Linked DNA regions of Homo sapiens. The protein of the gene in region 1 interacts with the protein of each later gene in a pairwise test. Each region holds a gene or a part of one and is shown on either strand. Other genes may lie near its edges.

What was found. The genes of interacting proteins can lie anywhere in the genome.
Region 2: the proteins of OCIAD2 (region 1) and GLP1R interact in a protein complementation assay, tested with the Homo sapiens proteins (one large-scale study listed by BioGRID).

What each region holds. Positions count from the first base shown.
Region 1 is NC_000004.12:48,903,140-48,908,712, reverse strand, and holds the start of OCIAD2 (OCIA domain-containing protein 2), read left to right. Parts: upstream 1-1,938; 5' UTR 1,939-2,055; intron 2,056-4,078; exon of another isoform or gene 4,079-4,101; 5' UTR 4,102-4,163; coding exon 4,164-4,229; intron 4,230-5,573. UniProt on the Homo sapiens protein: Has an essential role in the assembly of mitochondrial respiratory chain complex III. Is also required for STAT3 activation and plays a role in cell migration.
Region 2 is NC_000006.12:39,079,781-39,084,037, forward strand, and holds part of GLP1R (glucagon-like peptide 1 receptor precursor), read left to right. Parts: intron 1-917; coding exon 918-959; intron 960-4,257.

The DNA.
Region 1 (5,573 bases):
TATATAAATGAACACACTAATAAGTACATAATGAGTTGTGATAAGTGCTATGAAGGAAAACAATAGTGTCCTGTGCTATGAAAAAGAAGAAAGGCCTGCCTTAGGCTGGGGTCAAGGAAGATTTTCCTGAGGAACAGTCAAAAAGAAGGAGTAGGAAAAAGCCAGGACAGGACCAATCGGGAGAGGCTGCAGGCAGGGGAGGGCCTCCAGTGGAAAAGAGCTGTGTGAATCTGAGAAACAACAAGTTGGAGGTGTGGATCGGGGAGGCGTGAGGAGGAAGCGGCCACAGGTACAGGGACCAATTCGCACAATAGGAAAAGGTGAGAAATGAAGAGGGCCTTCAGTGGAGATCCACAGCCTCTCTCCAAGTCAACACACTCAGTCAGTCCTGGCAGCTCAGCCCAGAAAACTTTGTCAGCCATGGCTGGGGTAACTGTGTCCAGAGGTGTTTGAACAAGAGCCACTCCATCTTGAATAGGGACTGAGTAAAATAAGGCTGAAACCTACTGGGCTGCCTTCCCAGGTGGTTCAGCATTCTTAGTCACAGGATGAGATAGAAGGTTGGCACAAGGTACAGGTCACAAAGACTTTGCTGATGAAACAGGACTCAGTAAAGAAGCCAGCCAAGACCCACCAAAATCAAGATGGTCATGAAAGTGACCTCTGGTCGTCCTCATTACTCATTAAATGCTAATTTTAATGCATTAGCCTGATAAAAGACCCTCCCACCAGGGCCATGACAGTTTACAAGTGCCATGGCAACGTCAGAAAGTTACCCTATATGGTCTAAAAAGTGAAGGAACCCTCAGTTCCGGGAATTGCCCACCCTTTTCCTGGAAAATTCATGAATAATCCACCCCTTGTTTAGCATAGAATCAAGAAATAACTACCAGTATAATTAGCTAAGCAGCCCACACAGCTGCTCTGCCAGTGGAGTAGCCATTCTTTTTTGTTGTTGTTCTTCTTGTTTTTTGTTTTTTTTTTGTTTTTTTTTTTTTTGAGACAGAGTCTGGCTCTGTCGCCCAAGCTGGAGTGCAGTGGCGCAATCTCGGCTCACTGCAACCTCTGCCTCCGGAGTTCAAGCGATTCTCCTGCCTCAGCCTCCCGAGTAGCTGGGATTACAGGCATAGAGCACCATGCCTGGCTAACTTTTCGTATTTTTAGTAGAGAGAGTGTTTCACCATGTTGGCCAGGCTGGTCTGAACTCCTGAGCTCAAGTGATCTGCCTGCCTTTGCCTCCCAAAGTGTTGGGATTATGGGCGTGAGCCACCGCACCCGGCCTGTTTTCTATACTTCCTTAATAAACTTGCTCTCACTCTACGGACTCACCCCGAATTCTTTCTTGCGAGAAGTCCAAGAACCCTCGCTTGGGGTCTGGATCGGGACCCCTCTCCGGTAACAAGTGATATCGGTATTAAAGGTACCCCCACATGTCAAAGGCTTCCCTCCACAAGTCAGAGTTGGGGAGGGACAGGAGGCAGCAGGGGACCGACAAAGAGCAATGGAAAGAGAAGGCCTGGGAGCCAAGCAGGCCTGGGGTTGACTCCAGGCTCCCTTAGTGGCCTGCACAACTCAGATGACCCGTCTGTGAAGTGCAGGTCACAGTGGGCACCACACACGGCTGCAGAAAGGAGTGCAAAGGTGATGCCCACGCCTGGCCTAGGGCGGGGGCGCAATACATGGCTGTTGCGGCTGTGATTGCTGGAGGAAGGGAGTCATTTGGAAGGCACAAAGGAACTAGAACCTACTCGGTGTCGGGACAAGCCTCAAGGATGGGGCAGGGGTTCCGGCAAGAGCTGGGTTCCAGCCTGGGTTGCCACCAACAGCGAAAGTGACTGCCAGGTGGCAGTAGGGTGACTTCACCAGCTTAAGTGCTTAGCGGGCAGGCGAGGGGGCGGAGCAAGAGAAGAAAACACAAAGGGCCGGAAGGAAGCCGGGGAGACAGGTGGGGTACTCGGGAAGCTGGAGCGGGCCGGCGGTGCAGTCACGGGGGAGCGAGGCCTGCTGGGCTTGGCAACGAGGGACTCGGCCTCGGAGGCGACCCAGACCACACAGGTGAGCCCCCGCCCCGGGGAGTGTTGACGGCGGGAGGGGGTGGCCTCGGGGGAACGCGGCGCCGCAGGGCAGTCCTTCGAAGGCCGCGCGGTGCAGCGGTGGCCGCCCCCCACTCTCCCCTAACTCGGACCCCGGCGGCCCCGGCACGGGCGAGGGGCTGGGGAGCTTGGGGTGGCGCTGGCTGCTTCTGGCCAGGGATGGCAGCGGACTCCAGTAGGCTGACTCCCGGCTTCCCCGACCGCATCAGAAAGTGCAGTGTCCCCCGTCCGCCGTCCAGCCCTGCAGGCGCCCCCCTCCAAGCCATCCTAAGAAGCACCCCCGCCCCCCATGCTGGGGCGCGCCCTCCTCCGCACATTCGTCGGTCAGCACCCACGAACCCACGGGTCCCTTCCCCACCACTGAGGAAACAGAGGGTCCCCGGACCACCCCAGCGTGGGGGGTGGGAGCTACACCTGCAAGGCAAGACCCTCGGAAGGCTTGCTTTTAGGTGCAGACTGAGGACTAAGTGGGTGCCAGGGGACCTGGCCACCGAAGCTGAGAGGTATATTTGCCTCCCAATATAGGGCAGCGGCCTAATGGCTAAGCAAAGATAATCTAATTTGGCGTGGTCAGCAAAGACTTCCTGGGAGTGCTCAGGAAATGGAAGGTGTGCAGGGGCTTTATGGACGTATCCCTCATCCTCATCCTCATCCTAGTCTTCATTCCTGCAAGAGCCCCTCACCATTGTTGTGTCCATTATGCCCAATTAACAGTGGAGAAAGCTGAGGCAGAGACGGATTAAGTCATTTGCACCAAAGGGATCGCAGGGGTAAAGAGTCACGATTTGAACTCTGGTCTCTCTGACCCCAGTACTTTCCCGTGCAGGGCACCGTGCTGCCCCTGTAATCACATTAGACACCTGTGATGAAACTTGGTGCGAGTACGGGTCCCCTTGGCTCAAATGCCTCAAAGTTTAGTAACTGATGTAGGAAACAGAATTGTATATAAGAGGTTCATTTTGCAGAAGAAAAGCAGAGGTAGAGGTAGAGTTCAGGGCTGCAGAATGCAGTGGCCACTGGGGGCAGGAGGAGGCTCAAAGTCCACCTGGATTATGTCCATCATTGCCAAATCCAGGGTCCACTTTTCTAAGCCATGTGATGGTGTTGATGATTCACTCCCTCCTTCAGAAATTCCCTCCCCTCTGTATCAGCTATTCCTTCTCAGTCATTTCCTTGGCCTGCTTTTTTTTTTTTAATCTTTCTTCTCTTTTCGATATTCCCTTGGGCTCAGTGTTCATATTCTCCAGTACTGTTTTTAGACACATTTATTAAAGTTCCCTGCTTTAACTCTCATCTCTATGATGGCAGCTCCCAACTTCATCTCTCTAGCCTACCCCTGTTCTGGAACTCTAGACCCAAATCGTCAAATATTAACAGTGGCTAATTCCACTGTTTGCCCCCACAGGCACCCAAATCCAACATTTCCAAACCCAAATTTAGCATCTCTATCAAAGATGCTAAATTCCCACCAGGGTCTTTGTTCACGTCCCTGTAACTCCTTGTCTGGACTAGTGTACCACCTTCCAACCTGGTCCTCCTGCCCCAGAGTCCATCTACCCTCCACAGATCCTCCTGAAAGCTTAGGAGTCCTAGTTCCTTTGTGACATGACTAGATGGAATGGACCCTGCTTTCTTTTCTTCCTTAGCATCCCATGCATACTTTTCATGTTGTGTAACTGTTGACTTGTCTATCTCCCCTTTTGGACTGTGAATTCCTTCACAGCGGTGATCTTGTCTTATCCTTCTTCATATCCCCTGGCCTGGCACATAATCGACACTCAGTGCACAGTGTGGTATTTCCACTCTATTCTAAATCTGATCTGTCCCCATTAGTGAGTGCATGTATGTGTGCTGGTGGAAGAGGAGCACTGGAAGTTGAGTTTGCAGATGGACTAATGACAAAAGGAAAAACACATTTTCCAAATAACTCCAGTGGATCCTCAGGATGCTTTTAAGCTTGATGCAAACATTTAGTCATGGCATAGTGATTCTCTTCTACCTTCCTTAGACACTGGGTCAAGGAGTAAGCAGAGGATAAACAACTGGAAGGAGAGCAAGCACAAAGTCATCATGGCTTCAGCGTCTGCTCGTGGAAACCAAGATAAAGATGCCCATTTTCCACCACCAAGCAAGCAGGTATACTTTTATATTTATTGATCGATTCATTGATTGAGACACGATCTCACACTGTCACCCAGACTGGAGTGCAGTGGTGCAGTCATGGCTCACTGCAGTCTCGAACTGCTGGATTAAGTGATCCTCCTACTTGAGCTTCTCACTTAACTGGGATGACAGGTGCAGGCCCACATGCCTGGCTAATTTTTTTTGTGGTTAGACATGAGGTCTCACTATATTGCCCAAGCTGGTCTCAAACACCTGGCCTCAATTAATCCTCCTATCTAGGCCTGCCAAAGTGCTGGGATTACAGGCGTGAGCCACCATGCCTGGTCAGGTATACTTTTAATTGCAGGACCTGCCATCTGAAAAAATATATATCATAGGATTTTTATTAAATTTCAACTTTAACCAGTCATCTTATTTTTTTCAGTCTGGCACTTTGTTGGATGGGCTTAGGGAAAATAGGATGGGGAAGGAAAGTGTGTTTTCAGCTGCTTTGAAAAGAAGCTGAAATTTAAAATTTAAAATTTAAAATTTTATTTACAAAACTCTTTCTTGGCTGGGCGCGGTGGCTCACGCCTGTAATCCCAGCACTTTGGGAGGCCGAGGCGGGTGGATCACGAGGTCAAGAGATCGAGACCATCCTGGCCAACATAGTGAAATCCCATCTCTACTAAAAATACAAAAAAATAGCCGGGCATGGTGGCTGGTGCCTGTAGTCCCAGCTACTCAGGAGGCTGAGGCAGGAGAATGGCATGAACCCAGGAGGCGGAGCTTGCAGTGAGCCGAGATCAGGCCGCTGCACTCCAGCCTGGCAACAGAGCGAGACTCTGTCTCAAAAAAAAGAAAAAAAAAAAAAAAAAAAACCCTTTCTTTACTCTTTCCTGTTTGTAATCCAGCCTTACTAACTCTTAGATGAACTGTCAGTGACTGAAGAGGTTTCTGATAGCAGAGCAAAACTCTTAATAGACTCTAACAGAGTGATACATGTTGCTTATTTATTTTTATTTATCCTTTCATTTATTTTTTAGAGATGGGGGTCTCATTATATTGCCCAGGCTGGTCTCAAACTCCTGAGCTCAAATGATCCTCCCACCTCAGCCTCCCAAAGTGCTGAGATTACAGGCAATATTTTGCTTATTTTTTTACATTTATATTACTGTAAGTAATCACACTAATCCTATGCTGCTGACAGGTGTTCCTGTTCAGGGTGGCAGAGTCCTTTATTACTAATTAGCTAGCAGATTGAGAACCCAAGTGTTAACATGGAAACAATTTTTCAACTTGTTAGGAATGGATATTGTGTATTTCAGGAATACATCAATGAAGAAAAGAGAAAGCATTTGATGGGTCAATGGCGTT
Region 2 (4,257 bases), on another chromosome or scaffold:
TGGAAAAGGTGGGAAGACTGGGACCTGGAGGGGTGATCCCTGCCCAAAGTCACCTAGTTGGAGCAGAGCCAGAACTAGTATCCCCAGGTGTCCCAATACCTGGGCCAGTCTTCTCTGTAAGCACATGGGACAAGAAGCCTTCCTGGATGTAGCTCTGGGTACCAGCCTGGCATTGCAGCTGCCATCTACTTGGTGGCGAGCACCCTGCCAGGTGCTTTACATGCATTGTGCATTTACTCCTCACAGAACCCAGGAGATGTGCAGGGTTAGCCTCACTTTACAGAGGAGACTCAGAGGTGTTAAAACCAGAGTTACGGTGTCACAGTTTCAAAGAAAAGAACTGATCCTCTCCACTAGCATTAGATGATGCTAAGGGGGTGTAAAAATACAAAAAAACTGGTCCCTGCCTGCCCCTCAAGAGTGTCATGAGATGCCTGCACACATGTGGGCTCATGTGTGTGTATTTACATACATGTGCAGACATACAGAACACAATTCTGGAGCCCTGGGTCTCCTTCATGAACAGATGGGGCTGGAGTGGGGAATATTCTCCATGATCAGAGTCATTGTACTTCACTGGATCAGGCCTCCTCAAGGAGAGGTTGGATGTAGGATCTCTACAGCTTCTGGGCAGCTTCTGAGCAGGGTCTCCTGGACCCCATGGCACATGCCTGGGAGACCCATGGGGAGAGGCTAGCTGGGGCCTGTAGCCAGGCCTAGTCGCAGAGGTGCAACCCTGGTGTTCCTTCAGAAAGGAAATGAGAGGGAAGCCACTGCCCCATTCCTGGATCTGCCTGGGCCGCTGGATTTGGGGAGGGGGTTGTTGAGGATGGAGTCCCAAAGTGCTTCCGACCAGGGCCAGTCTGCAGGGCACCTCCCTCCTGCTTCCTCCCTCTTGATGTGACTCTTGTTTCCAGGGGCTGATGGTGGCCATATTATACTGCTTTGTCAACAATGAGGTAAGCTCTGAGGAGGGACGGTGGGGACCCTGGTGGGTGGGTACCATCAGCCCGTCTGGAGTAGTACAATGGGGACTCCCATCAATCTTGCCAGCTGAAACCCCCTACTCACCTCACTGAGGCACTAGGGTTGAGAAGCCATCTTGTCCACAGATTTGGTTTTCTGTGCATGGTCTCTCTCACACATGAACACACACACACAAGTACATGTACAGGTATACCCTAATGGCATGTGACCCTAAGGAAGACCCAGACTCATGTTAAGGGGATCCTGAATGACCCTCTTTGCTTGGTGGTAGTGACTGTCACTTACAAAGTGATTCAACACACACATACCCAAGCCACATGCTTGGGGCTTTAATAATCACTATCTCATTTAATTATGACCCCCACATCCCTCAAAAAAAAACCCTGCTAAAATTCTTATTTCATATTCCCATTTTTTATATATACATGAAAACACTGAAGATCAGAAAGAGTCAGGAACCTGCCCTAGGTTTGGAAATAGTGGCACACATCGCTTCTTAGCCTTTTGGCTAAGGTGAAGTGTGGAAATAGTGGCATGGCAGAGCCAGGATTCAAATTAATTCTGCATTAAAGCAGAAAGTACCCCATTCTTCATACACACAGGCAAGAGCCCTGGCTCACTGTGGGGAAGGGGGTGGCTTTCTGGTGCTAGGATGGGAGAAGGGGGTTCTCGCTGGCCCCACACACTCTCCTGAAAATGTCTGCAGGACAGCAGGCCTCCCTCCCATCCCTGAGATGGTCAGCTCCTGGGAGGAGGGCATGGCTGTGTTCATGGGCACCTGGAAAAGGCCCCTTCCACCAAGGTACTCAGCTTTGGAATCCCAGAGCTCAGGGATGTTGGAGTCAGCACATTAATAGGCTTGTCTTTTTCTATGGGTGTGGGGGATGCAGAAAGGACAGTGGGTGGGGACCTGGGTGTTTCAAGGAGCTATGAGATGGCTCAAAGAAGCAATGTGATGTAGCAGAAAAGATGCAAGGATGCAGGCTTTGGCATCTTATTTGGTCTGATCTGGGCCCCATCACTTAATGAGCTGTGTGACTTTGCCTAAGTTACCTGCCCACTCTGAAACTTAGTTTGCTCATTTACAAAGTGGGGATAATCCTGTGAGGATTAAGAAAGTCTGAAAAAGGTGCGAAAGGGGAACAGAGAACAAGTCCTTCCTTCAAGGTGGGATGCTGAAGGCCCATCCTAGCTCCTCACAGGTGCTGCTTGGCATGGAGAAACACACACCATTATCTCCAGATGCTCAGTAAGCAATCACTATTAGATCAGTATTCAGTGATTCCCAGAGACAGGGGCCTAAGGAATTTCAGAGGATGCCGTGCAGAGAAAATGAGGCTGGGTGAAAGGGAAGGGAGGGGAATGTTCCCTTGTCCCTGAGGCCTCCCCCTGCTTCTGCTGAACTGGCTACCTGTGGGAAGTGTGGCCCTCAGATCTCTAAATGGGAGGGAAACCAAGGTCTCTTAAGGGTTTACTGCATATAAGGTGCTCAGAGTGTCTCATTACATCCAATGCTGTGCAGCAGATGGTATCCCCAATTCACAGCTAAGAACGTTAAGCCTCAGCAAAATGAAATGAGTAGCCTAATTCAATAGACAGAAGATGGTAGAGCTAGTGGGCTGTGGCGGGGGCAAGATCCCACTTAATGCCTCAGGGAAGCAGGTGCTGGGGAGGTGAAGGCAGCGCCAGGCAAAGAGTGGCCCATAAATGGGATTCTGGCTGCTCCTGGGACAGGTCTTAGAGGACCCAGCGGCTCCGTTTGGAGGGTAGGGCAGGGAACAGGCTCGTGACCCACAGGAGGCAGTCCTGGTCCTCCTCCACTGCCATATCCTCAAAATGAGTTTCTTTAAAACTGATGCAAACGAGGAAGTGCAAAAACCTAAGCTCTGTGGGTGGCCTCCCCTCCAGGAATGCTCTCAGCCAGCTGGGTGATGCGCTACCCAGCCCTGAGCTCTGCTGCTTTCCATTCCAGCCCAGTGGTGATGGGGGCAAGACAGGGTGGCATGTATCCTGTGTGGGGATGAGGAGCAGAGGCCTGTAGGGAGAGACTGAGGCTCCCTGCTGCCACCTTGTCATCTTGACCCCCCCACGTCCCCGTTTCTCACTTCTCTATCCTCTGACACTGTCACTGCAGCCCTACTAGCAGACACGTGTGCTTGGCTTCCCCCCCGCCATTGTGAACAGTCTCCCCTGACCCCTGGCTCAGCTGCCTCTCCAGATTCCATCCTTCCAAGCCTAGTCATCTCATCACCTCCCTCCTCATGCACCACCTATGGCTGGCCCACCTTTGTAAGGGGATAGTACTTCTTTGCCCTTGGAAAAAAACTTGATCCTGAATCACCAGGGTTGCACCTCTCTGACCAGGCCTGGCTACAGACCCCAGCTAGCATCTCCCCGTGGATCTTCCAGGCTAGTGCCACGGGGTCCAGGAGACCCTGCTCAGAGAACGGGAGAACCTGTCTCCCTTCAGAGCACCAGCCAGTTCCTTTAAACCCACCCTGAGACTCCTCATGCCCTGGCTGCTCCAGGCACAAGGACAGATACATCATTGTCACTGGGCCACAAAAGACACATGTGGCTCTGGGGCTAAGGCCTCTGTCCACAAGAGCTGTTCTGCAGACCCAGGGTTGCCATGGCAATGCCAGGTACTTGTGACCTGAGGAGAAAAGATGGCTTGAATATTGGTTCTGTGTGGCTGCCAAGGCCTGCACCAGCTGCTGGTGGGCGTGAGTGGGGACAGGGAGGGGGAGGCCTGAAGGTGGTTTTGCTGTAGCTTGTGCCTGAGAGCCACAGTGAGGTGACTCAGAGCCCTGAGTGCTTGTCCCAGCCCTGCCACTGCCGAGCTGTGTGACCTGGGGCAAGTCATTTTGCCTCCCTTGCCTCTGTCTCCCCAGCCGTAAATGAAGGTGAATGAGCTTCCCAATTCACCCCGAATCCTGAGGCTGGCATGGTGCCTGCTGGAGAGGGAGGTCAGGAGGGGTGTGCTGCACTGCAGAGGTCGAGGGCAGGGATGAGGATAAAAATCCGATGGTGGAGGAGGAAGTGTGGTGGCCTAAGTCCCAGCCCAGGTGCTCAGAATCTGTGGTGTTGTCTTTGTGGGTTCATTTTCATAGCTGAGGAACAGAAGGAACCTGATGTGAGATGCTCATGCATTTATGTGTTCATTCATTTGGTTCATTTAAAACACATGTACTGAGCACCTGCTGTATGCTGGGCACTGTGCTAGGTTCAGGGATGCTGAGATGAAGAAGATGTGGTCCCAGCCCTCGA